2 linked regions of the Homo sapiens genome follow. The protein of the gene in region 1 interacts with the protein of each later gene in a pairwise test. Each region holds a gene or a part of one and is shown in the gene's direction. Other genes may lie near its edges.

Region 1 (2,956 bases):
TTTCCATTTATTTTTCTTAGCTAATGTAACTTTATTCTTCACTTTTTTTTAGCCCTAGACTTCCTAGATTTTCTGTGGCATTCTGTAGGACATTGTATTGCTTGGAAAAAAAAAGATCAAAATCATTCTGGGGCAAATGCTCTATTATCCTTATTTATGACAAGAGAATAATGAAATTCATAAGAAATTAATAACATTCAGATATTGCTATAAATGTACTTGAGTCATTTTCATTTGGGGATAGTAATAATGGCTGTGGCAGCTTTAATGGAGAAACCTGTGTTGGCCTCTTTTTCTGGCATTAGGATCTCTTGTCATAGAACTATTGGTAAAGTACAGGTTTGATAGCAGAGTTCCTGAATTCAGCATATCATCAGAATTTCCATTTACCTTTTGTCTTTTCTTTTTATTGTATTTTTTAACCTTTTTGTTTCTATTCCTACCTCCCATGAGTAACATTGATTTCTGCTGAAGTTAGAATTTGTGTTAAGAATTGACTTTAAACTTCTGAAATAGTTGAATATTAGAAGTGGCTTCAGTTGCCATGAAATGATTGCTTTTCTTTTTCTTTTTTTTTCCTTAAATAAAAATAATGCAGCCTTATATATGTCTCTTCCCCTCAAGAATGTGAATTTAGGCTGGGCATAGTGACTCACGCCTGTAATCCCAGACCTTTGGGAGGCTGACACGGGAAGATTGCTTGAGCCCAGGAATTTCAGACCAGCCTGGGCAACACAGGAAGACTCCATCTCTACTTAAAATATTTTTGTTTTTTAGCCAGGTGTGGTGGTATGTGCCTGTAGTCCCAGCTACTTGGGAGGCTGAGGTGGGAGGATCACTTGAACCCAGGAGTTTGGGGTGCAGTGAGCTATGATTGCGACACTGCACTCCAGCCTGGGCAACAGAGCAAGACCCTGTCTCAAAAAAAAAAAAAAAAAAAGAATGTGAATTTAGCTCCAATTCCAAATGACTAACTCTTAGGCCAGTCATAGCCAATGAAATCATCTGACGGTAGCTTCTGTAGCCCTTAACCTAAGGAGTCATTAGAGGTTATAGTAAATTAGTTTCTCTAGTGGTGCAGAGAGAAATGCCATCGGGGAAATTATCACTGTCTTTTTGGCTAAAGTTTTATATTGTGAACTGGATCCCACTTAACAGCTTAAAAACACAAAAATGAAAGGGTAGTCCTAGTTTATCTTCTTAATTAGAATCATTATTTGGAAATAAGATTTGCAATGTGCTGTCTATCCCCAAACACTGCTGAGCTTGCTGGAAAACAGAATTTAACATGAATGTTGTCTGAAAGCTGTAGGATCAATGGCAAAAAAGGGGAAATGTTTGGTAGGGAATTGGACCAGTTCTAAGGTATCACTTTTAATTATAAAATAATGTCTTCCTTTTTATCTGCTTTTCAGACAGCCTCAGTGAACTATTAAACATTTGTGTGCAAAGTCCTATTTTGCTTATCTAAGGCATTTTGACTTGGAAGTATTAAACTTCAGGAACGAGCTAGAGAAGACAATGAGGGTATGTTAGAGAAGGAAAAATAGGAGCTTTTTGCTTATGGATTTTAGAGGTCCACAAATCGAAAGGAAAAATAAATTTCTTCATTTCTAACCCTAAAATAATTTTGTTAATGAGATGCTGGGAAGAAGACTACCAAAAGGCCTCAAAGCTCATGCTTCTAGAATATTCAGTAATTCTGAATAGTCTTTGGGAAGTAGCATTTCTTGGGAAGTAGCATTTCCCTTCTTCCAAATAACTGTTTGAGATCTTAAAACAGAAAATCCAGTGTTAATGGGCTCTAGATCTTAAACTAGGTGAGCAGCTTCTTACATACAACCAGTTCCTTGTTAAGGATCCAGCAGGAAAACCAGCCATAAAACATTTCAACATGCAGTTTGGGGGCTCCCTTGCTTATTCACTGAGTTTAAGCTCTTGCTGCAACATAGCTCTGTACCATCTGGGATGCTAGCAGTCACAGCAGTTAGCTCAGATATCTGAGCTGTCTGCCACACAAAGCCTGAGGAGATCATCATTCTTCAGTTTCATTCATTACTTAATGAATGCCAAATTAATTGGCAGGAAGAAGAAACACTGTGTGATATACTGAACAAGCCTGTGTGCATGAATAAGGAGCCACTCAAAAAGCCAATTTTGAGCTTTATTTCTCCGTTGTTAACAAATCTCAAGAAAGCCTTTGTTACAGTTTAGCTCATGTCATTTGGTTGGTTTTATTTTCTAGCCCTTTAACATAGGAGGAAAATTGTCATTTCATGTATAACTTGTAACACAGAATTGAACTGATACTAGTTTCCTTGCCTTAAATTAATTATATGTCATCCCAAGGGTCTCTGTTAATTCTGCTTTGCCAAGCAATAATGAGATCTGGGTTTGGCATTAGAAGTATTTCATAATTTTGGTTTTTTATTTAGGTTTCCTCCACATCTGTAAAGTGATTGATTAAATTAGAGGAGGCGTGTAGAATAAATCCCAATCCCATTGCAACTGGCAGAGCTTTATAAATCTTTATAAATTCAGTTACAACAAAGGAGAGGATCCTACACCATTAGAGCCATGCCATCAGGTGTTTGCAAGTGACAGCTGTAGTGTGTTGCCTCAAATAATACCAAGTTATAAATAATACCAAGTAATTATCAACTCACTCCCAAATTTAATAAGATATCAAAGTCCAAAAGGTTACTTAGGAGTAGTCTTCCGTGGGGGAAGATAAATTTATTAAAGAGTCATGTACTGATCTTTTTCTTGGGATTTTTTTTCCTTTCCCAGAAAAAAAAATTATTTTGGTGACTGATCAATTGTAAACAATTTTCTTCCTTACTTACAAATCATCCGTTCAGAAAAATAAAAGTGGACTTCCTTTCCTAAGCATTACAATTAGCCTGGGCAAGAGGTGTTATGATTGTCTTATTCTTTAAGCCGGCTTACTTTTTGG
Region 2 (3,828 bases), on another chromosome or scaffold:
ATTCACCGACAATGGGAATGGTATGACTTCTGATAAATTACATAAAATGCTAAGGTAGGTAAAAATGTGCCACACTTCTTAAAATTGTTGCTTTTACCTAAAGGGTTTTCCATGCCATACTTACTATTCTTGGTTTTTGTTTTTTGAAATGAAATGCTGTATGTACAGTGTGAGCTGTTCTCTAAGCATGATTTTCTACTACTGGTAGATGATGAGTCAGTCTTCACCACTGTCATCACCTACCCCACCCTACTTCCAACTCCCTAAAAGTCCACCATTCCTTTAGAGTTGTAGTATATTTATATCAATTACTGATAACTTTAGTGTAAATTAGGTTTAACCATTGTTTGTAATAAAACCTACCACTTTGTTGGGAGTAACTTTTAGAGGAAGAGATTCATGGGGTGAAATCTCACAGTCCCGGAAGCATGGGTTATACTCAGCTATTTAGTCAGGGTGTGCCAGCGATGAGTTTGCATGTTAGTACTTGTGATCCTTTTTCTCCCCTGTGATGTAGATTTGGTTTCCTTATTTCAGAGCTGGGAAAACACGTCAAGATAGATTAAAAGTAATCTGCCCGATACATAAAAAATCAACAACAACAAAAAAGTAATCTGCCCAAGATTATACAGCTAGGAAGGGTGAGGCCAGTATTTGAACCCAGGCTTTTTACTTGGTATTACAATTAATGAATTAAAAAAAAAGATTATAGGTATTTATTTATTTATTTATTTTTGATTATAGGTATTTATTTTTAAAAATCTTTATTTTCTTCTTAGCTTTGGCTTCAGTGACAAAGTCACCATGAATGGTCATGTCCCAGTTGGATTATATGGGAATGGCTTCAAGTCGGGTTCTATGCGTCTGGGTAAAGACGCAATCGTTTTTACCAAAAATGGAGAAAGCATGAGCGTGGGCCTTTTGTCTCAGACCTACTTGGAAGTCATAAAAGCGGAGCATGTTGTTGTTCCAATAGTGGCATTCAACAAGCACCATATCCTTTTGGTTGTGAAATAAAAGCTGTGGAGAAACTGAAGAAATAATTTGGAAACATTCTATGTTTTTGCCTTCTTCCAGATTATTCCCTTTGAATAACACCTATTCCATTTCTTACCTCTGTCCTCTGCATTTACCCTACACCTGAGGCTAAGGGTTTGTCCCTTTCTCTTCTCTGTTGGAATCCTGCTATGGAAATACTCAACATTTTATGTTAAACTTCCCATAGCTCTTCTGTTTACTTCAGGGTTATTGTAGACTAGTAAGACTTTATGGTTTGGCTTGAAAATTTGACTAGTGACCACAAAAGGCAGGATAACTTTAGGAAAATGCCTTTTGTATGAACACATTGGAATATTAGAAAGTATTAAGTTAGTTAGGAATAATAATCTGCTTATTTTTTATTCTTCTTCTTGTTCATTTGAAATCAAACTGCCATGTTAAAACTTAGAAAATAGGCTGAGCTCGGTGGCTGATCCCTGAAATTCCACCACTTTGGGAGGCCAAGACAGAAGGATTGCTTGAGCCCGGAATTTTGAGACCAGCCCAAGCAACGTAGGGAGACCCTATCTCTACAAAAAAAATTTAAAAATTAGCCGGTCGTGGTGGTGGGTGCCTGTGGTCGGTCCCAGCTAGGCTGCAGTTAGCCCTGATCATGTTACTGCACTCTAGCCTAAGCAATAGTGAGACCCTATCTCACAAAAAAAAAAACCTTAGAAAATTATTTATAAATAGTTTTTCTGTTATTTAAGTTTATAGAGTTAGTTTTCATATTGTAATTATGAAAACTATGTTGTCAATCTGAGTCTTTAACTTATGATATACGACAGATGATTAATTTAGCAGAATCAAAAGCCAGCCTTGCTGCAATTCTGGAACATTCTCTGTTTTCCACGGAACAGAAGTTACTGGCAGAACTTGATGCTATTATAGGCAAGAAGGGGACGAGGATCATCATTTGGAATCTTAGAAGGTAAACGTGGACATAGATGTTGACCGTTTGGGAAGTAAAGTGCACGTGCAGGGTGGTGGTGTTATATTCATCTCTCGTTACACACAGTAGAAATACATGGAAAGGTACTCATTTTTTGGTGTAGTTACTGATTTGTCTTTGCCCAGGATATGTTATAGAGGCCATTTCAGCTTCAATTTGAGATATTTTCATCTTGTTAAAAAAAATTTTTTTTTGAGACGAAGTCTCACTCTTGTTCCCCAGGCTGGAATGCGATGGCGCAATCTCAGCTGACTGCAGCCTCCGCCTCCTAGGTTTAAGCGATTCTCCTGCTTCAGTCCCCCGAGTAGCTGGGATTACAGTCGCCTGCCACCATGCCCGGCTAACTTTTGTATTTTAGTTGAGACAGGGTTTCACCATGTTGGCCAGGCTGGTCTAGAACTCCTGACCTCAGGTGATCCACCCGCCTTGGCCTCCCAAAGTGCTGGGATTACAGGCGTGAGCCACCACACCCGGCCAAAAAAAAAAATTTTTTTCTATCCCTGCCATTCAGTCTCCATTAGCACTCTATTCTCTCTCATTTATTCCACCCCGTCTTCTCAAAAAAAAAAAAAAAAAAAGAAAAAAGAAAAAAAGCAATGAGAAGACAAATTCAGGAGGATAAATCTTTCTTCATTGTGTACATTACTTAAAACTAAAAGTGATGTAGCACCTGATGAGAAAAGTAATATAGGTGAGATTTTTGTGTTGCTAAAATTTATAATCCTTTATCTTTGTGAGGATAAAATCCTTCGCAAATAAATTTTAAAATTTAAGACTAATGTCTAATACTGAAAGATCTAAGACATACTGAATCACAGGAATAAAGCACAGGTAGTGATAAGCCTAAAGAACTGAAAAAACTTGTGCTATTCTGATACCTGAATTCGTTTTTCTTGCTTTCACTTCCCTACCCCTCCTTCTCCTGGAGGATTTTTTCAATTATACTTTCTGAGGTAATTGTAGATTCATGTGTAGTTGTAAGAAGTAATAGAGAGATGTTAGGTACACTTCATTCAGTTTCCCCTGCTGGTAACATCTAACAAAACTATAGTACAGCCAGGCACACTGGCTCACACCTGTAATCCCAGCACTTTGGGAGGCTGAGGCGGGTGGATCATGAGGTCAGGAGATCGAGACCATCCTGGCTAACACGGCGAAACCCTGTCTCTACTAAAATTACAAAAAATTAGCTGGGCGCGGTGGCGGGCGCCTGTAGTCCCAGCTACTAAGGAGGCTGAGGCAGGAGAATGGCGTGAACCAGGGAGGCGGAGCTTGCAGTGAGCCGAGATAGCACCACTGCACTCCAGCCTGGGCGAAAGAGCGAGACTCTGTCTCAAAAAAAAAAAAAAAAACTATAGTACAGTAGTACTATTGATATTGACAGGATTTTGATGTTGATACAGTCAAGATGCAGGACACTTTAGTCATCACAGGAATCCCTCATGTTGCTCTTTTGTAGCCATACCCACTTCCCTCATAACCCCACTCCCTCCTTAATCCGTGGCAACCTCTAATCTGTTCTCTATTTCTATAATTTTGCCATTTTAAGAATATTACATAAACAACATGGAAACCTTTTGGATTTGACTTTTTTCACTTAGCATAACTCCTGGCGTTTTCCAGGTTCTTGTATGTATAGTTTGCACCTTTTCCTTTTTCTTTTTTTTTTCTTTCTTTTCTTTTCTTTCTTTCTTTCTTTTTTTTTTTTTTGAGATAGCGTTTTGCTCTTTCCCCCAGGGTGGAGTGAAGTATAGCGCCATCTCGGCTCACTGCAACCTCCGCCCACCGGGTTCAAGCGATTCTGCTGCCTCATCCTCCCGTGTGGCTGGGATTATAGG

The links.
Region 2: the proteins of MKLN1 (region 1) and MORC3 interact in a two-hybrid assay, tested with the Homo sapiens proteins (one large-scale study listed by BioGRID and IntAct).

What each region holds. Positions count from the first base shown.
Region 1 is NC_000007.14:131,491,814-131,494,769, forward strand, and holds part of MKLN1 (muskelin), read left to right. Parts: 3' UTR 1-2,956. UniProt on the Homo sapiens protein: Component of the CTLH E3 ubiquitin-protein ligase complex that selectively accepts ubiquitin from UBE2H and mediates ubiquitination and subsequent proteasomal degradation of the transcription factor HBP1.
Region 2 is NC_000021.9:36,336,953-36,340,780, forward strand, and holds part of MORC3 (MORC family CW-type zinc finger protein 3), read left to right. Parts: coding exon 1-54; intron 55-779; coding exon 780-994; intron 995-1,821; coding exon 1,822-1,969; intron 1,970-3,828.